Linked DNA regions of Homo sapiens: region 1 is linked to region 2. Evidence: fine-mapped expression QTL. A gene starts in region 2. The other region holds a variant in brackets. All regions are shown on one strand. Distances are from middle to middle. Region 1 has its middle 24 kb from the start of FXYD5. Region 2 holds the start of FXYD1 (FXYD domain containing ion transport regulator 1).

Region 1 (10,472 bases), 40 kb after region 2:
GCGGTACTAACTCAAGGGGGGATGAGTGGGGTTGGCCCTCGGTGTTCTCTCGCCACTCATTCTATCTTCCATGGGGTCGGGATGAAAACGCCAATACTATGTTTCCCAGATGCGCTCAAAGATGTGGTTTTGGGTGTGGATTCAGCTCTGCGAATTAGAGGCCCTCGCAGAAGACTTGGAAGACCAAAAGAGACCATCTTTCTGTGCCATTTGCTGTTTGCTGTGAGCTCATAGGATGGTGAAAGTGTTGAGTTTTTTTGGCTGTACCATTCCAGTGTCCAGTCACTAGCCTCGTAGGTACTAAAAGGCAGTTATGCTCATAAAAGAATATCTAAATTGGCCAGGCGTGGTGGCTTATGCTTGTATTCTCAGTACTTTGGCAGGCCAAGGCAGGCGGATCACCTGAGGTCAGGAGTTTGAGACCAGCCAGGCCAACATGGCAAAACTCTATCTCTGCTAAAATACAAAAATTAGCCAGGCGTGGTGTAGTCCCAGCTGCTCAGGAGGCTGAGGCAGGAGAATCGCTTGAGCCTGGGAGGCGGAGGTTTCAGTGAGCAGAGATTGCGCCATTGTACTCCAGCCTGGGCAACAGAGAGAGACTCCATTTTGAAAGAAAGAAAGAGAGAGAGAGAAAGAGAGAAAGAAGAAAGGAAGGAAGGAAGGAAGGAACGAAGGAAGGAACGAAGGAAGGAAGGAAGGGAAAGGGAAATCTAAATGGCCAATAAGCACATGAAAAGATGTTCAATATCAACAGTCATCAGTAAAAATAAATGAAAATCACAATGAGATACCACCACACACCCACTAGGATGGCTAAAATTAAAAAGACAGACACTTCCAAGTGGGAAGAGGATGTGGAACAAGTGGAATTTCCATTCGTAGCTGGACCAGAAAGGGATACAATCACTTTAGAAAACTGGCAGTTTCTAGGCTGGCCACGGTGGCTCACACCTGTAATCCCAGCACTTTGGGAGGCTGAAGACCATCTGAGGTCAGGAGTTCGAGACCAGCCTGGCCAACATGGTGAAGCCCCGTCTCTACTAAAAATACAAAAATTAGCTGGATGTGGTGGTGGGTGCTTGTAATCCCAGCTACCCGGGGGGCTGAGGCAGGAAAATCACTTGAACCCAGGAGACAGAGGTTGCAGTGAGCCGAGATCAGACCACTGTACTCCAGCCTAGGCAACAGAACGAGACTCGGTCTCAAAAAAAAAAAAAAGAAAAGAAAAGAAAATTGGCAGTTTCTTAAAAAGGTAAATGTGCACTTAACCTATGACCCAGCTATTCAACTCTTAAGTATTTATCCAAGAGAAGTCAAACCACATGTCCACACAAAGACCCACACACAAATGTTTACAGCAATATCTGTAATAGTAAAAAGACTAGAAACAACCCCAATGTCCATCAGCACAAGTGAGTGGACTACAAACTGTGGAAGGAAGAAAGACTGAGCTACACAACACATGAATGAATCTCAAAAGCATTGTCTTGAGTGAAAGAAACCACACACGAAAGAGCACAGACTGTGTAATTCCATTTATATGAAGTTCTGAAATATGCAAAACTGATTAACAGTGATAAAAATCAGAAGAGTAGTGGCCTCTACTATGTCAGCAGGAGGTGGGGAGAGACTGCAAAGGGGCATGAAAGAACTTTCTGGAAGGATTGAAATGTTCTGTGCCCTGATGACAGTGGTGCAGATTACATGTCCATATATTGATCAGAATGATCAAATTGTACGTTTAAGTTTTGAGGGCTCGGTGCCGTGGCTCATGCCTGTAATCACAACACTTTGAGAGGCCAAGGCAGGTGGATCACTTGAGGTTGGAGTTCGAGACCAGCCTGGCCAACATGGTGAAACCCCGTCTCTACTAAAAATACAAAAATTAGCCAGGCATGGTGGTGCATGCCTGTAATCCCAGCTCCTCAGAAGGCTGAAGCAGGAGAGTCGCCTGAACGTGGGAGGCGGAGGTTGCAGTGAGCCGAGATCGCGCCACTGGACTCCAGCCTGGGTGATGGAGCAAGACCCTGTCTCAAAGGAAAAAAAAAAAAAAGATTTGTACACTTTACTATGTGTAAGTGATATTTGGATGTGTGACCCCTCCAAATCTCATGTTGAAATGTGATCCCCGATGATGGAGGGGGGCCTGGTGGGAGGTGATTGGGTCATGGGGGTTGATCCCTCATGAATGGCTTGGTGTCCTCCCCATGGTCATGCGTGAGTTCTTGCCCTCTTAGCTCACGTGACAGCTGGTTGCTTAAAGAGCCTGGCACCTCCCCCTCTCTCTGTCTTACTCCTGCTCTTGCCATGGGACACGCCTGCTATCCCTTCACTTCCTGCTATGAGTAAAAGATTCCTGAGGTCTCTTCACCAAAAGCCAAGCAGATGCTGGTGCTGTGCTTGTACAGCCTGAAGAACCATGAGCCAAAGAATTCTCTTTTCCTTATAAATTACTGTCTCAAGTATTCTTTTATGGCAATGCAAAATGAACTAACACAGTAAATTATAACTCAATACAAAACAAGAACATTGAAAACAAATAGGCAGTTCTGTCCTGGGTGGTGATGATTTTCTGATCCCTGGATCTCAGACAGAGCAGCCAGATGCTGAAGCTGACGTGTACAATGGGGGCTCCTGATTAGGGTGGAGGGAGAAGCTCCTTGGGCAAGTCAGTCTGCTCATGTTGTGGAATCATTTGCAGTCTTCACTTAGAGCGCACTCCACCAGCCTTTCCAAAGAGCTTGTCAACCTCTAATTCCTTATGCCAAGCCAGACCAATTTTGCTTAAAATTGACAGTCACAAATAATCTCAAAATCTCGTGGCTTACAACAAAGGTTTGTTTCTCGCTCTCACTACATGTCCCTCACGGTTCAGCTAGGAGCTAGGATGGGACCCAAGATGATGGGGAAGCCTGGGCTGGGCGCAGTGGCTCACACCTGTAATCCCAGCACTTTGGGAGGCCGAGGCAGGCAGATCGCTTGATCTCAGGAGTTTGAGACCAACCTGGCCAATATGGTGAAACCTTGTCTCTACAAAAAATACAAAAATTAGGCCAAGTGCAGTGGCTTACACCTGTAATCCCAGCACTTTGGGAGGCCGAGGCAGGCGGATTACCTGAGGTCAGGAGTTTGAGACCAGCCTGGCCAACATGTCAAAACCCCATCTCTACTAAAAATAGAAAGATTAGCCAGGCATGGCGGTGCATGCCTGTAATCCCAGCTACTCAGGAGGCTGAGGCAGGAGAATCACTTGAACCTGAGAGGCGGAGGTTGCAGTGAGCCGAGATCAAGCCACTGCACTCCAGCCTGGGTGACAGAGTGACAGAGTGACACTCCGTCTCAAAAACTAAATAAAAATAAGCTGGGCATGGTGGCTTGCGCCTGTGGTCCCAGCTATTTGAGGGGTGAGGTGGGGGGATCGCTTGAGCCCAAGAGATGGAGGTTGCAGTGAGCTGAGATCACGCCACTGCACTCCAGAGTGAGACCCTGTCTAAAAGAAAAGAAAATAAAAGAAAAGAAATGTTTCTGGTTATCATAGCAGGCAGAAGGCAGAACAAGGAACAAGGTGAGACACACACTGGCTCTTATAGCCTCTGTCAGGAAGGGACACACCTCATTTCTGCTCACATTGTCATTATCGAAAGCAAATCACACGGGCACATTTGAGTTCAACAGCACAGAACATTACAATCTTCTTATAGGAAGGTATATTAATCCGTTTTCATGCTGCTGATAAAGACATATCTGAGATTGGGAAACTTACAAAAGAAAGAACTTTATTGGATTTACAGTTCCACGTGGCTGGGGAGGCCTCAATCATGGCAGAAGGTGAAAGGCACGTCTCACATGGTGGCAGACAAGAGAAGAGAGCTTGTGCAGGGAAACTCCCCTTTTTAAAACCCTCAGACCTCATGAGACTCATTCACCATCACAAGACCAGCAAGAGAAAGACCTGCCCTTATGATTCAACCACCTTCCACTGGGCCCCTCCCACAATATGTGAAAATTCAAGATAAGATTTGGGTGGGGGCACAGCCAAACCACATCAGAAGGGAACTGGGTATTGATGGGCAGTAATATTGTTTACTGCAAAGGACATTTATTATCTCACATAGCAAGAGTTCTAGAGGCAGAAACTGTATTCAGCTTCAGGAGACAGCCAGAAACAACGACTTAAACAGGTTATTTATTCCTCTCTCACATAGCAGAACTCTGAAGTACATAGTGCAAGGCTGGGAAAGAGGATCCCTAATATCATAAGGGACCAGACTTGCTGCTCTGCCACCCTAAGCATGTGGCCTGAAGCCTCAAGATCACAAAATAGCTGCAGAAGCCTCAGCCATCATGCCACATTCCAGGAAAAAAATCAAGAAGGGGAAAAAAAAGTGAGAAAGGAAAGGCACCACTAGGTGATTCAGCTCCTTTTAAAG[G/A]GACTTCCCAAGACTCCCTCCCAAAGATTTCTACTTCCTTCGGATTGCTACCTCTAATTGCAAAGGACACAGAAATGTGGTCTTTTAGCTGAGTCCGTGACACCCCAAATACCATCAAGGAAAATAATTGCCCTCAGGAATTTGTTGATTAGGATGCTGAGAAGGATGGGGAGCTGCCACCAAGTCAGGAGATGGAGCCTCAAGTCATTTTTACTCCAATGTAAAAGGAAAAGATAACTGTTAAGACTGGGGGTTGGCCAGGCACAGTGGCTCACACCTGTAATCTCAACACTTTGGGAGGCCAAGGCAGGTGGATCACCTGAGGTCAGGAGTTCGAAACCAGCCTGGCCAACAGGGTGAAATCCCATCTCTACTAAAAATACAAAAATTAGCCAGGCATGTGACACATGCCTGTAATCCCAGCTACTCGGGAGGCTGAGGCAAGAGAATCACTTGAACCTAGGAGGCGGAGGTTGCAGTGAGCCAAGATTGCACCATTGCACTCCAGCCTGGGTGACAAGAGTGAGACGTCATCTCAAAAAAAAAAAAAAAACTGGTCGTTTTTGAAACTTCCAGAGGACAGCAGCACTGATTCTCAGACTTGATAGAGACTTCCAGACATCACTTCAACAGCGCCTCCAATGCTCTCCAATGCTACCCAATCCCTTTCTGGCAAAAGACATCTTTTTCTGTGGCATCATGGTCTGAAGTGAAGCCTCCTCCTCCTCCACCCTTACATCAGGGGAGATATCTTGCCAGGAGCTAATGGAGTGGATGTTGTAATTCAGCTAGCCTCCTGAGTACAATTCTGTCAAGGTTCTTGTTTTGAAATTGAGGCCAGATCACATTAACTGGAAGGAATCTGCCTTTTCTCATCTGACACTAGATTGTGCTTTTCTTGGAGGTGTTGAGGATGACCTCCAATGATTGCTTCGGTAAAGTCTGTTGGCTTCTCAAGAAGTTATTGAGTCAAGGACTCCAGCTGCTGATGGTGGGAGGTTAAACAGGGTTTGAAACATCGCCTGAGGTGGCTTTGTAATGTATCACCTTGGCCAGGTTAAACTACACTTCCCAGAATCTTTTTCCCTAGATGCCTGTGTTTTCTGGTTAGGGTGAACCACAAGAGACATTCTTGTCAGGGATCTGCTGGGTAGAGGTGAAGCCACGGACATTTCGCAGCTTATACCAGTTGTCACTTATCAGACAGCTCATCTCATTGGCATAAGGCAGCAACCAGGGCTGCAACTGTTTCACCTTCCGCTGGATCCTCCTTCAGCTTCCCCAGTTGTTGGGCCAGACATGTGTGCTCAGCCCCGTGATGAAGGACCATGACTCTAGCAAGACACCCACAGCACCAAGGTCATAGACAACAAGAATTAGCATGGGGCTGGGTGCAGTGGCTCATGCCTGTAATTCCAGCACTCTGGGAGGCCGAGGCGGGTGGATCACTTGAGGTCAGGAGTTCGAGACCAGCCTGGTCAACATGGTGAAACTCCATCTTTACTAAAAATACAAAAATTACCCAGGCGTGATGTTGCATGCCTGCAATCCCAGCTACTCGGGAGGCTGAGGCAAGAGAATCTCTTCAACCTGGGAAGCAGAGGTTGCAGTGAGCAGAGATCACACCACTGCACTCCAGCCTGGTCGACCGAGTGAAACTCTGTCTCAAAAAGAAAAACAAAAAGAAAGAAAGAAAGAAAAAAAAGAAGAGAAAAGAAAAAGAAAAAGAATTAACATAGGATTCAGTCCATCCTTGTGGACTCCAGCTTGTGCTTGTGGGTTCTAACTTGTTCCGTGCTCTCCCCAATCTTACCTCAATCTTCCCTTCCTGACTTCCTGCACCTGTGGGTTTCAAGTTCCAGCATCAAGACAACAGCCCTACAAAGAGAGCTTCACTAGCAACTACAATTGTTGAAGGTCAAATTCGTGTAGCAAACTGTGTGTGTGTACGCCCACATATGTATTAAAGGTTCAGCTTTGCTGATACAGAATTTGGTACTAAGAGTGGTTCCAGAAGGCCAGAATCTTAACAATGAGATCTGGTTTTTCTTTCTCTTTTTTTTTTTTTTTTGAGATGGAGTCTCACTCTGTCACCCAGGCTGGAGTGTGGTGGCGTGATCTTGGTTTACTGCAAGTTCCGCCTCCCGGGTTCACGCCATTCTCCTGCCTCAGCCTCCCCAGCAGCTGGGACTACAGGCGCCTGCCACAACGCCCAGCTAATTTTATTGTACTTTTAGTAGAGACGGGGTTTCACCGTATTAGCCAAGATGGTCTCAATCTCTTGACCTTGTGATCCACCTGCCTCGGCCTTCCAAAGTGCTGGGATTACAGGCGTGAGCCACCGCGCCCGGCCGAGATCTGGTTTTTCTAGAATTGGTTCTCTAATTAAATTGAAAGCCATTAATGACCTTGTTTTCAGTAATGAAGGGTACACTGATAGGTCATAGCATGGAGTGGCAAGGCAGTCACTCAGACCATCACCAGTAGCTTCCTATATTAGGTTTCTATAGAAGGAAAGGCTCTGGGTGACTGAGTATTTGCTTCCACAGAACAGTTTAGTGAAAATAAGAAGTGTAATGGGGTTGGCTCATTGCTGCTGACTGTGCTGGAAAACTTGGAGCTGAGGTGGAATGATGGCACTCAGAACTTTACCTTCCCAGCTCTGGTTCTGTATAAGGGACTTGAAAGCTTCTGTGAGTGGTGGCCCTGAAAGAAACTTGTATTTCCCATAGTCATAGGGCTGAGATTTCTGAAAACCAAAGCTAAAGTCTAATCCAACAAAAGTTGAACTTCTAACCTCACAGGGTCTTTTTTGTTAAAGTTAGGGCTTTGATTGGGGAGGAATGGGATCCTGAAAATTGGGATGGAGACATATGAGCAGATTCCAGTGAAGCTGAGGACTTTAAGACCCCTAAATTCTGCCAAATCTCTTTGCCTGCAGAGGCAGCCCTTTCACTCTTGCCTGCAGAAGTGAGTCTCCTCTTCCCTGAAGAAATTGTAATGGCCTTCCATAAGGCAAGGCATCTATGCTCCTCAGGACCTATTCCTATCACTTCTTACTTCTAAGACCTATGACTAGACTCAAGGCTCAAGAGAATGTGAAAGGTGAGGTATAAAATGTGACCCATGAGGGGGTGCAACACACACCCAAATAATTGTCAATTTATATCAACAGAGAACTGGGGAATATGTGCAGAAATGGATCTTAAGGGTGTGGAATCAAGGTGGAAGACAATATAGTTGGATCAAGTCAAATGTATTTACATTGGCCCACCAAGCAGAGATGTAATGTTTGAGCTTGAGGGGCTAGGAATGGTTCTGACAGTTTGCTTGGTTGGCTGATTGATATATGGACCCGTACCTGGGCCTATAATAGGTTGAAAATGCCAGAATTTCCTTGGGTGTACTAAAGAGCATGAATCAGCATATTTTTTTTTCTGTAAAAAGCCATAGAGTAAATGTTTTAGGTTTTACAGGCCAGTCTCAGTTTTTCACTCTTCAGCTCTCCCATTGTAGCAATAAAGCCATCAAGGACAATTTGTAAGTAACTGAGCATGGCTGTGCTCCAATATAAGTTTATTTATAAACACTGAAATTTGAATTTGTATCATTTTCATGTGTCACAAATATTATTTTTCTTTTGATTTTATTTCAACTAAAAAAATGTAAAAACCAATTCTATTTTGTGGGCCACACGAAAACAGCCCAGGAATTAGATTTGACCCATGGACTGTCATTTGACGATTCCTGCTGTAGTGAAAGGTGGCCAAAGGCTCAGAGAGATTGGAATGCTGGAGTGGCTTTATCATGTAAGATTTGCTCATCTATACACATTGACAGTGCCAAGGGGACACGACTTTCATCCTAGCTATCAGAAATAAATTTGTGAAGGAGAGTCCTAGCATCCTTGAAGAGCTCTGTGGTGGCTCTTCTTTGTAGGTCAGAAACTCTAGTGGAGGTCATTAAGATGGCTGACCAGAAGTGCCCAACACTCAGCTGCGTAGAGTGTCTAAGAGAAAACACTGGAATTCAGCAAAGAAGTGACAAAACCCCAGAATATTGTGATGGCAGCATAGACAGGGAAGCAAAGCACCTGAGCAGTATTGGTGCAGAGCCAAGAGGACTCCCCATTGCAGGTAAAAGGTAAGTGGGGGGTGCCCTGCAGTCCTTGCAGCAATCCTAGCTATAAGAGGGCCTCACGGTCCTCACAGGCCTGAAGCCCAGTCTAGGGAGCTGCCTAGAATCCACATGGCTACACTGCCCCAGAGAAAGGACTCACACTGAGGCCCCACTCCCAAAGACCCAGGCTGCTACCACACAGGGCTATTTTGAGAACAGAGCCCACTGCTAGAGGGCATTCTGCCTTGGATGCCAATAGCTCCTGCATCTCCACATCCCTGGGGTCCTTCTGTTATTCCACCATGTCTACACAAAAGGGTGCAATGCCACAACACCAGTTAGATCCAGAAGTACAGCTATGACCCCAGCATTTGAACTCATACAGTGCCCCACACCCCAGGGAACAGGCAATCTATCACAGCAGGGTGGCAGCCCCCAAAACATGGGGAACCAATGTGCAAATCCCTCAGGGACCAAGGACTTGCCTGCCTGGTGCCCAACAGTGATGGCAATGCTGCCTCACAACTAGCAGAGCCACCATGCCCAGTGCACACTTCCCTAGGGTTCACCCAGCTCCTTCCTCCAGCAAAGCCACACCACTGCCTCCTTAAACACCTGAATATTAGGCCACTGAAGTATTCACAGACACTGCTGACATTAATTACAGCCAAAGAAATCACATGGAGATCATACTACTGTGTTTATCTAGAACCACAGCCAAAGCATCCTACACAACCGACACTATAGGGTACATATACAGGAAAAAGTCTTTACTTATGAAAGTTACTCCATCAAATTGGAAGAGGTAGCTATTATACCAGATGTGTAGGAACACAAGAAACATGAAAAAGCAAGAAAACATGACACCTCTAAAGGAACACAATAATCCTCCAATAATAGACCCCAAAGAAAAGAACATCTGTGCAATTCCCAAAAAAGAATTCAAGTGATCATAAGGAAATTTGATGGGATACAAGAGAATACAAATAGACAATTCAACAAAATCAGGAAAACAGGGCTGGGCGCGGTGGCTCACGCCTGTAATCCCAGCACTTCGGGAGGCCGAGGTGGGTGGATCACCTGAAGTCAGGAATTTGAGAGCATCCTGGCCAACATGGCAAAACCATGTCTCTACTAAAAATACAAAAACTAGCCAGGCATGATGGTGCATGCCTATAGTCCCAGCTACTTGGGAGGCTGAGGCAGAAGAATCGTTTGAACCCTGGAGGCGGAGGTTGCAGTGAGCCAAGGTCGTGCCACCGTACTCCAGCCTGGGCAACAGAGTGAGACAACATCCCCCGCCCAAAAAAATCAGGAAAACAGTTCATGATCAGAATGAAAAAAAATCAGTAAAGAGATGGATATCATAAAAAAAAACACATAAATTTTGGAGCTGAAGACTTAATAAATGATTTTTTTTTTTTTTTTTTTGAAACAGAGTCTTGCTCTTGTCACCCAGGCTGGAGTGCAATGGCATGATCTTGGCTCACTGCAACCTCTGCCTCCCAGGTTCAAGCAATTCTTCTGCCCCAACCTACTGAGTAGCTGGGATTACAGGCCCCTGCCACCATGCCCAGCTAATTTTTGTATTTTTAGTAGAGACGGGGTTTCGCCATGTTGGCCAGGCTGGTCTCGAACTCCTGACCTGGTGATCTGCCCACCTCAGCCTCCCAAAGTGCTAGAATTACAGGCGTGAGCCACCGATCCCGGCCAATAAATGAAATTTAAAATATAATTGAGAGCTTCAACAACAAACTAGGTCAAGCAGAAGAAAGAATTTCTAAACTTGAAGACAGGTCTCTTTTGAAATAACTCAATCAGACAAAAAATAAAATAAAAAAGAATGAAGGAAGCCTACAAGACCTATGGGACATTGTTAAGCAAACAGATATTCCAATTTCCAAAAGGAAAAGAGATGAGAAA
Region 2 (10,472 bases):
GCCATCCGGGAGACCCCAGCGTGCCACCCTGACCCTGGATGTGTCTCCCCTGCATGCCAGAGGAGGCAGGCATTTGCCCTCCTGGCTTGACAAGGACCCTGACAGCACTCAACCCTCCTCCTGGGCCCCAAATGCTGTCCCTGCCCTCTGGGGTTTCCTTCTGCTCCTTCCCAGATGCCAGCACCCCTCTTCAAGGCATCCCGACAGGCTTTGCTGCCCATCTCCTGAGATCCTGATGGGCCCCTGTTTCCCTGGAGACCCGGCACCACATCCCAACCTCTGGGGTCCCAGGACTTCCGTCCCCACCTTCGGGCATGCAGAAGGCTGGACACTCACAGTGACAGCAGGGTCGGAGAGAAGCTGACGGGCAGGTCCGGGGAGCCCTCACACAGGGCGCTGTCTTTAGAGCAGGAGCAGCGCAGGGGACACTTTCCCTTTGGGGGTCTCCAGGCCACCACCACCCCCGCCCCAGCCAGCAGCAGCAGCAGAATGCCTGCCCCTCCCATGCCCCCACCCCCACTCTGAGGCACCCGCTTCTCCCGGCCCACCCAGCTCAGCCCAGGCCACTACGTCTCCTCCTCCACCAGGCCGCCCTCCATCCGCCTGCTGGCACGCTCGGCCCTGGCTTCTCTCTCCTCTTCTCCGTCTTTCTTTCAGTCGGCCTTCCTCCCTGTTCGTATGTCTTTGGTGTCTAATTTTCTGTTTCTCTTTCTCCCTGTCTTTCTGTCTCTGTATTTTTGACTCTGTGTGTTAGTCTGTTTCTATTTCTGTCTTTGTCTCTCTTTCTGCCTGTTTCTTTTTTTCTGTGTTGCTGTCAGTCTTTCAGGCTTTAGGTAGCTGTCTATCTGTTGGTCTCTATGTGTGTGAGTGTATGTGAGTGTGTGTGTGTCCTGCTGCCTGGTGTCTTGATTTCTTGTCTCCTGCCCCCCCCACCCCCCCTTCCAGCTCCCTGCCTGTAGTTTCTTTGCCTCCTCCCACCTCCCTTCTCCCCGAAGGTTTGGGAAAGGGGTTCGCTGGACACCCGGCACACCCGGCAGAGTAGGATGGGAAGGAGGAGGGGGTCAGAGGCCATGAGAAGGTCGGCCTTGGGGGAAGGGACTGGACAGCCCCACAGGAGGGGGAGGGGCCACCAAGGGCTGGAGCCGCCCCACCACTCCCGCCAGCCCCCTCCCCAGATTCCCCACTCAACCCTATTGGGGGAGCAGGAGGACGATGTCACCAGGGTGGGGACCAGATGGCTCTGCATTCTGGAGCAGGGTGGGAGGAGAGGCCCTGGGGGGGCTGGGGACATCCCGTCCTGGCCACTCTCTGCCAGCCCCCTCCCCTGGCTACAGGAGGGTGTGTTGGGCGCTGTCAGTGGGGCCAGATCACGTCCAGCTGCTCCCTCTGGTGGTCATACTCGGCAGGACCTCTGCCCGGCCCCAAGCCCTTAGCCTCCCTCCCCTACCCTGAAATTAACCCTCTAGTGGCCAACACCCACTGGGGGACAGCACCAACCCGAGGACATGATGATGATGAAGATGATGATGATGGTGAAGATGATGATGATGATGCCACCCCTTCTTCAGCGTCTACTCTGAGCCTGGCCTTGTCCTAAAAGCTCATCTATTAACTCATTCTGATCTTGCCAAAGCCCTCTGAAGTTAGTGCTGTCATCATCACCACTTTACAGCTGGAGGAAGTGGAGACAGAGGTCAGGGAACCTGAACTCTAGGTTACCCAGCTGAGGGCACAGCCGGGATTCAAACCCAGGCATCCGGCTCCAGGTTATTTTGCATTCTTTCTTTGGAGATCAGAGTTCATGGATAGATGGATAATTGGTTGTTTTAATCTGGACTAAATTTTAGTCATTTGGATAGATTCTGTCCACTAAATAAGAAACATAAGTAAATGACACTTGTTAGCTAAGATGAAATAGTAGTAATGTTTATACTCACTCAGCCTTCACAGCCACCCTGTGAGATGGGCAGTACTGCTATCCCTGCTTTACAGATGGGGAAACTGAGGCACAGGGAAGTTATGTGATTAGTTTCCTGGCTCTAGTCAGCTCTAAACCTAACCCCTAGGCTGTACCACCTCATCGCCTGGGGACGAGACTCATCCTGTGATTGAGGAATGCATGCAGCCTCTCTTGACACTGACGCCCACGCCCAGAAGCCTCGTTGGAGGATAAGGGGGCTTAACAGCTTGGAGGTCATGCAGATCTGGGTTCCAGGCCCAGTCCTGTGTGGCCTCAGTTTTCCCATCTGTCAAACGGGGACAATCGTGGCACCCGCTTCCCAGTTGTGGAGAGGACTCAGGTGATGGAGGCAACTCATCCTTTTGGGGTTCAGCACAAGGTGGGCATCCCACAGTGGTCGGCAAGCTTGGGGGTGGGCTCCGGATCCAGCTCCTAGAGGAGCAGACCCCAGCAGCTTGTGGTTTGAGCCATGCCCGTCAGCTCTCAGTTTCCTTCACTGACTATTGGGTATGATAAACAGGGTCCCTGAAAGTGAAGTTGGAGAGCTGAGTGCCAGGGGCACAGAGGGATCTGAACCCACTCTCATAGGGTGCCCAGCCCAGCAGTCCAGTTCACAAGGAGGAGGATGACAAGGACAATAATAATAGGCCAGGCACGGTGGCTCATTTCTGTAATCCCACATTTTGGCAGGCTGAAGTGGGAGGATCGCTTGGGGCCAGGAGTTCAAGACAAGCCTGGGCAACATAGAGAAACCCCGACTGTACAAAAAATTAAAAAATTAGCCAGGCATGGTGTCGCACGCCCATAGTCCCAGCTACTCAGGAAGCTGAGGTGGGAGAATCACTTGAGCCCATGAGGTTGAGGCTACAGTGAGCTATGATTGTGCCATTGCACTTCAGCCTGGGTGACAGAGCAAGACCCGGTCTCAAACAAACAAACAAAAAATGAAGTTAATCATAAGACAATGTCAAGTTCAGAGACCTCTGAGCCCTGTCCAGGATTATACACGTGATCTTAGTGATTTTTCCATTTTGGAGCATGTGAAAATGAGGCACAGAGCTGCTCAAGTTCACACAACCAGGAGTGCAGTGCCTGGGCCATTCCAGGTTTCCCTGTCACCAGGACCTGTAAACCTGGCCTGCCCATGGGGACGCCAGGTGTGTTGTCCCCGACAAGAGCTCAGGGGAAGGAAAGTGTGGGGTTAAATACATATCTGTGGTTTTGGAATGTGTGAACATGCAAGTGTGTCAGCCTGCGCATCTGTCACCGTGGCCAACCATGTGCCTGTTTGCTCAAGCATAGGGTGTGAACCAGTGTGTGTGTTTCTGCTTTTGTGGGTATGTGTGAGAGCGGCGGGTTGTCCTTGATGGTGTTTCTGCTTGTGTATCTGTGCCCATGGAAATCTGTCTGTGTGTACACAAGCTTGTTGGCCTTCCTATCTTTGGGACCATGTAGGAGTGCTGGCTGCATGTCTGTACCTTTGGGGTTTTTTTGTTTTGTTTTTGTTTTTGAGACAGAGTCTCGCTCTGTTGCCCAGGCTAGAGTGCAGTGGCATGATCTCAGCTCACTGCAAGCTCTGCCTCCCGGGCTCAAGTGACTCTCCTGCCTCAGCCTCCGGAGTAGCCGTGATTACAGGCGCACGCCACCACACCCAGCTAATTTTTGTATATTTTTTTAGTAGAGACGAGCTCTCGTCGGGTTGGCCAGGCTGGTGTTGAACTCCTGGCCTCAAGTGATCCTCCCGCCTTGGCCTCCCAAAGTGCTGGGAGTACAGGTGTGAGCCACCGTACCTGGCCATGTTTGGCCATGCATCTTAGAATGCATTTATGTGCGGTGTGCACATACTTGTGTGTTTCTGTATGGCCATTTGTGGGTGGGTCTTCACATAAACATGCATTTTTGTGGCCAGTTTGTGAGTGTAGATGGTGATGTGGCTATGTCTTTGACTGTATCTCTGTGTGGCCATCCATCTACATGAGCGTGCGTGGGTCTGTGTAGACATAAATGTGCTTGTTCTGGTATTTTGTGACTGGCATAAAAGGTGTTGGCTGTGTGTCCGGGTCTTTGGGTTTCTCTATCAGTGTGTCATTCTGTGTGTGTCTGCTTCTATGGATGTACATACATACATGGTTTTGTCTGGTTTTGTACCTGTATATCTGGGTCTTTGGGATTGTGTGTGGGTGTGTGTGTGTGGTGCATTTCTGGGGATCTCACCACAGCAGATAGCGCACATGCGCGCGCACACACACACACACACACACACCTCCCTCCCGTCCTCTAAAACAGCCCTGTTAAGGACCTCACGGAGCACTGGGATCGGGGGTCAGTGGGCTCCTGGGCAGTCAGGCTGGGTGACCTTCGGCCCTGGCTGGACCCAGTTCCCAGGGGGCAGCCGCCTCAGCCCAAAAGCTCTTGGAGGCGTGTGTGTTTGTGTGTGTGTGTGTTCACAACCCTGTCCTCCACAATCCTCCTAGCCTCTCCAGCCTGCCTGCTGGCTGCCTGCTGCTGCTCTCTCTGAACTGAGAGAGTTAACCAAGCGGGCCAGGGCAGTCTGGGCTGGGGGCCGCCCCCTGGCCCCCCTCCAGCCCCAGCTCCAGTTTCAGCTGCTGGTTGGGGAGGGCATGGGTGGGGTGGGGCTGGGAGGGGAGGCTGCTGGGGGCGGCGCGTCCAGCTCTGGGCCAGGGGGTCCAAAGTGCTCAGCCCCCGGGGCACAGCAGGACGTTTGGGGGCCTTCTTTCAGCAGGGGACAGCCCGATTGGGGTGAGCGTCCCCCACTCCTTCCCTCCAGGCCTCACCCCTGGTCTGGCTGGGCCGCCTATTTTGGGAGCAGGAGTGGCCAGCCCGAGGCTTCCCAGGCAGGCCAACCCAAGAGGGAGGGAGTGTGGTTGAGGCAGTGGGTTCTGCAGGGTGGGATGTGGGTGACTCCTCCCTGCCCTGCTGGTGCGTGTGCACCCTGGCAGGGTGTGGAGTTGGGACACACACGTGTGTAGGGCTGGTTGCGTCACTGCGTGGGGGCACCGGAGGCCCAGAGGAGGAGTATTGGATGCCTGACGGTGTTTACACCCCACGTCCTGCTCCAACCAGCAGTTTGGGGAGAGGTTGTTGTTCATGTCCATTCCGGCCCCACTGTGTGTGTGTGTGTGTGTGTGTGTGTGTGTGTGTGTGTGTATCCCTGCCCCAGCATGTGTTTTCTATCTCTAAGGCCCACTGGGCTGGGCCTCATGTCACTTGCCTGACATCCGATTGTGAAAGATGTCACCCAGAGGCGGGCAGAGGGGCTGTCTTTTCCTTTTCTCGTTGCTGCCCAGGGAGGAGACGGGGTGACCTTTCCCACAGGGGCAGCCTGTGGCGATGTGGCAGCTGGGCCTCACCCCGGCAGGGCTGTGCGTGACCCCCTGAGTGGGGGAAGGCAGGCTGTTGCCATGGTGGCCTGAGCGAGCAGAATTCCTCCAGGGTGAAGTGGGAGATATTTATACCCGGGGTCAGGCCGCGAGCGGGCGGGCGGAGAGGGCAGGGAGCTGGGATTTCGCGGGGCACAGTGAGGCCGGGCATGTAGGCAGGTGGGACTTGGGCGTGCCCTGCTGTCTCCTGCTCTGTGTTTGTGTGAGGCAGCGCCTCCTCTGCCCTGCCAGGGTAGGTCTGGGAATCGGGGGCCTGCTGCGGGAGGTGGAGGCCCAAGGGAGGCCCCCCGGGGACTGTGTGTCTCACCCCCGTCCCTGCTACGTTGTGTTGTTGTGTGATCCCATCGTGGAGGTTGTTTTGGTGACACTGTGTCCCCACGAAGCTGGGGATACCCGTTTCTCTAGCTTGGAGCCACCAAGATAGAGGACAAACACTTCTGTGATTCAGTCCCCAGACTGTCTCTGACTTAATCCCTTGGGTTCAAGCCCTATGTGGGAGAGCAAGGGCACACACTGCCTAATCCGTGGTGTCCCCCCCAGGACAATGGCGTCTCTTGGCCACATCTTGGTTTTCTGTGTGGGTCTCCTCACCATGGCCAAGGCAGGTGAGTGCAGGGGAGGCTGCCCGCTACCCACCTCAGCCCCAGGGGTGGCGGTGGGGACCGAAGAACCAAGTTGGAGACCCCAACCTAGACTAAGTCGGCTGGGGTACCAAGAAGTTTGGGGGTCTCCACGTGGGGTCCAGTCACAGGCTGGTATTTGGGGGAGGGGAGAGGAAGCCCCAGATCAGGCAAAGATGGGGTGGGATGGGGCTGAATCCCCGATGGGATAACTGGGTCACAGACAGCCTGCCGTGAGTCAGGGAGCTGGGGCAGTTAGGTGCCACCTGCCCCATCTGGGACAGTGCAGAGGGGGCAGCTGGGACCCAGAGAGTGTGGGCAGCCTGCCCAGACACCCTCAGACTCTAAGCCCAGCAAGGCAGAGCCTCCAGTGGTCTCCTCATGCCCCTCCCTGCCAGGACCCCAGGAAGCATTCAACCCCTGATTTCTCTCTCTTTCCAGAAAGTCCAAAGGAACACGACCCGTTCACTTACGGTGAGCGGGGGGTCTAATTTTGAGTCCTGGGGGAGAGCCTGGCTTTGCTGGTCCTTTGATTCCCCCTCGCCCTCCCCCAGAGTCCCAGTATTGATATCTCTGTCATTCTCCTTCCCTCTATTTTGTCCTTCCTCTCTGATTCCACCTGTCTGCATCTTTTCCTGTCTGTGTCTATCTGTGTCACTGTCTATGTGATACCTCTCTGGTTCTCTTTCTCTTGCCTGCGTCTGTCTCAGCATCTCGTGGCCCATCCTCTGCTTCTTCCCGTCTTCTCTCCCCCCTGTCCTCCTCCTCCCTGTCCCCTCCCTCCCTTTCCTATACACCCCTTTCCTCTCCCTGGTACCCCACTTTCCTCCTCCCATATCTGCTCCCCCTTAATTATCTTACTTCCCCCCTTCTGCCTGCTGGTCCTTTCTCCCTGTTCCCTCCTTCCCAATTTACCCCTCTCCTATTCTCCCTCCTGTCTTCCCTGCCCTCACCTTCCCTGCTCTGCTGCTCACAGACTACCAGTCCCTGCAGATCGGAGGCCTCGTCATCGCCGGGATCCTCTTCATCCTGGGCATCCTCATCGTGCTGAGTGAGTGCCCCTAGCTCCCGCCCTCTACCCCGCCTCTCCCTGGCCCCACCTCTCTCTGGCCCCGCCTCTCCCTGGCCCCGCCTCTCCCTAGCCCCCCTCTCCCTGGCCCCGCTTCTCCCTGGTCCCGCCCCTCCCTGGCCCCGCCCCGCCCCAACCCCTCCCAGGCCTTGCCCCGCCTACCCTGCCTTGGTTCCCCGGCCCCCGGTCTCGCCTCTAGCCCCGCCCCGTCCCCCAAGCCCCGCCCCTCGCGAGGGCGAGCTGGAGCTACAGCGCCGCTTGGCGCCCGCCGGGAGGGAGCCTCAGCTTCTCCTACCTCTCCACGCCCACAGGCAGAAGATGCCGGTGCAAGTTCAACCAGCAGCAGAGGTAAGACGCCCCTCCCCGCCCTCCTTCGCCCGCTCCTGCTCTGGAGGGCGCCGCGGGTGAGGCGGGGAGTACCCCTGACCCGCAGCCCGATCCCCGTCAGCGACTATGTATTAAGCACCTACTATGTGCCATGGCCCAAGCCTGGCCCTGGGACCAAGCGAGGAAAAAACCTCCCGCCCTTCCTGGCCGAGCTCCCAGCCTAGTGGAGGCGGTGGCCGTGGGTTCCAACAGCCCCACAGATAGAAAAATCACAAAGCGTGATAACACAAAGTGCAGGAAAGAAGAAACGGCGGTGAAATGAGATCATCTCACACGCGGCCCAGTTTAGCTTAGAGTCTTGTTCCTAGCTCTTTGATTCCTCTTCGAATAAAATGTTAAAGCATGGACAATGTATGAATATGTTAGAACAATTATAGATATTATCATAAGTAGTAGCTAATATTTACTGGGTGTGTACCACGTGTTAGATACGGTTTCACTTCCTCTGGGAGGGAGGTGCTGTTATTAACCCCATTTGACAGATGAGGAAACTAAGGCACAGGGAGGTAAAGTCACTTTGTTCAAGATCACTCAAGTGGAAGATGGGGGGTTCTGGGTTTCCAACCCAGGCCATCTCATGGCAGTCTGCCAAGTCCCCATGACTATCCCTCCCCCACCAACTTCACATCCCTGCCCCCAAATCCGCGGAGGTACTCACTGTTAACCAGCTTAGAAGCCCCCTGCCAGCACATAAGCTGCTCCTGGGTGCTCCTCATTTCTGGCGGACCCCGAGCCTGCTCTTCGTCCATATCTGGGCCTAGTTACACCAATCTGGGAAAGGAGGCTTGTACTGGGGGGTTCCTAGAAGGGCAGCCTCTCCCCCTTTCCATCCCGAAATCCCTCTGCCTCTGTCTTCCCAGGACTGGGGAACCCGATGAAGAGGAGGGAACTTTCCGCAGCTCCATCCGCCGTGAGTCTGGGGAGACTGCGGGTATTCTGGGGAGAGGGCTGGTTCCAAGGACCGCTTTTCCCGGCCCTCCCTGGCTGCGTAGAGGGAAGGGCTGGATCTGAAAGCGGAGGGCGGGGAGTTGCCCCGCCGCGGGCCCCACCTGCCCAGGAGCTGGGGATGCCTCTCCAGAATGACCCCCGATCTCCGTGTTCCCCCCAGGTCTGTCCACCCGCAGGCGGTAGAAACACCTGGAGCGATGGAATCCGGCCAGGTGCTGCAGCTCTGACACGGCGGTGGGAGGGAAGGAGGGAGGAAGGAAAGGCGGGAGAGGGAGGGGGCCAAGTGCCAGAGTTGAAGGGCGGCGAGGGGTGGGGCTGGACGTCCCCCCTCGCCTCTCACCCTTTTCACCCTCACAGGACTCCCCTGGCACCTGACATCTCCCACGCTCCACCTGCGCGCCCACCGCCCCCTCCGCCGCCCCTTCCCCAGCCCTGCCCCCGCAGACTCCCCCTGCCGCCAAGACTTCCAATAAAACGTGCGTTCCTCTCGACAGCACTTTGTCGGTCTCGGTCCCTCAGCGCGAAACGCCAGCGCCACTGGGCCCCAGCAGGGGGCGCCCCACCCTAGAGGAAGGGGCGGGGACGACGGTGGTGGGCGGGGGCGGGGGCGGGGGTGGCCTGCACGGGGGCGGGCTCCCCGGGCCCCCATTGGCTGCAGGCCCCCCCACGCCAGGGCTCCCCCCAGCTCCCCCCCACATCGGTCCGTCCTGCTTCCAGCTGCTGCAGCGCGCCTTCGCCGCCAAAGCATCCAGCAGCCCCCTGCTCCGGCCCAGCATGGCGACCCCGACCCAGACCCCCACAAAGGGTGAGCGTCGTTTGGGGAGGGGGTTGCAGGGGGGCTCCGGGATCTGAGAGCCTAGGAGAGAGGGTGTCGGGAGATTCAAGCAATGGTAAGGCAAGGGAGTTGGGGGAGGGAGGTCCGCTCCTCCTGTGGGCGGAAGCCCCTGTAATGCGCCCCCCCGATCGCCCCTCCGGGTCTCTGGGACACCCCCTCCCCGGCAGGCGTCCTGTGCCAGACCTGCGGTTGGAGAGTGGCAGTCCCGGGAGAAGGGATGCTCGGACAGGTCGCTATGGCAACCGGGTGGCTGGTCCCGCACCGTGGTGGTAGCAGACGGGGAAGAGATGAGCTTGCAGGGTGGGAGCGGGTGGGTCTGCGACCAGAGACGTTCTGGAAGATTTCAGGGTCCCTGGGGTGGGCAAGGGAAGGGGAGGAGGTTCATGTCCCTCTTCTTTCCAGTGCTGTCTCCTAGGGTGTCTGTTTCCTGAAACCCTTGACAGCCAGGTTCAGAGGAAAGGAGTGAGAGCTGAAGGAAGAGACAGAGAGAAGGGATATAGCAAGAGACAGACAGGGAGAACCTGGAAGAGACAGAGACCAAGAGAGGCAGGAGATCCAGAGTCACAGATACAAAGACCCAGGAAGACAAATAGATGGACTCAGAGAGATTCCCAGTGGAGGGGAGAGGCTGAGAGCAGTAGACAGAGATGCAGAGAGAGAGAGAAAAAAAAATGAGAGCCTGGGAGATAGTGGGATTGAGACCGCTATGGAGAGAGAAGCAGAGAGACGGAGGGAGAGAGACGGACCCATGGGGAGAGAGGGGAGTAGAAAGAGAAGAAGGGAGCCATGTGGGGTGGGGCCCAAACCACTGCAGTGAGACCCTATGTGTGGGAATGGGGCGATGGGACCCTCCTTCCAGCCCACAGCAGGGGTGTTTTCCAATCCCAGAGGTGCTGTTGGGTATACACCTAGCTGCCCCTACTGCCCCCATCCAGCCACACACTGATTTCCATTCCACACCAATTAACCCAGTTATGCACCCACTTAAACACCCACTTCTACCGTCGCCCCCTAATAGCCCCCACTGCTAATCCTGCTTCTGCAGATGAGCAAGGCACAGACTGCTTCAAGAGGGAGCCAGTGCCCAGCAAGGGTCTCCAGCACTGAGGGCAGGGGACCAGGGGTGCTGAGAAGCCCCTGGCAGTGAAGGGAACCCGAATTCCACTTGGATGGCTCCCTCCCTTCCGCGCTTCCCAGCAGGCGGGGGCTGCTGCACTGAGCCATATCTGCAGAATCCGAAGCAGGGCGGGGG

What was found.
Region 1: its variant is fine-mapped to the expression of FXYD1 in whole blood (TOPMed, PIP above 0.99).

Annotation. Positions count from the first base shown.
Region 1 is chr19:35,173,738-35,184,209 of GRCh38, forward strand. No RefSeq gene overlaps it. Among named protein-coding and RNA genes, the nearest start is that of FXYD5, 24 kb to the left of the region's middle. RefSeq lists a silencer at 2,114-2,270. The variant G/A (reference allele first, on the strand shown) is at 4,431.
Region 2 is chr19:35,134,175-35,144,646 of GRCh38, forward strand. FXYD1 (FXYD domain containing ion transport regulator 1) reads left to right here and starts at 4,650. Exons shown (of 8, transcript NM_021902.4): 1 at 4,650-4,720; 2 at 5,902-5,966; 3 at 6,423-6,455; 4 at 6,958-7,032; 5 at 7,362-7,398; 6 at 8,298-8,347; 7 at 8,546-8,597; 8 at 8,743-8,935. The coding sequence starts at 5,906. The coding sequence ends at 8,568. LGI4 (leucine rich repeat LGI family member 4) reads right to left here and starts at 885. Exons shown (of 9, transcript NM_139284.3): 1 at 337-885. The coding sequence starts at 506. It overlaps FXYD7 (FXYD domain containing ion transport regulator 7), which reads left to right and starts at 9,081. Exons shown (of 6, transcript NM_022006.2): 1 at 9,081-9,190. The coding sequence starts at 9,160. RefSeq lists silencers at 6,962-7,091, 7,202-7,421 and enhancers at 7,056-7,618, 8,742-9,302, 9,303-9,864.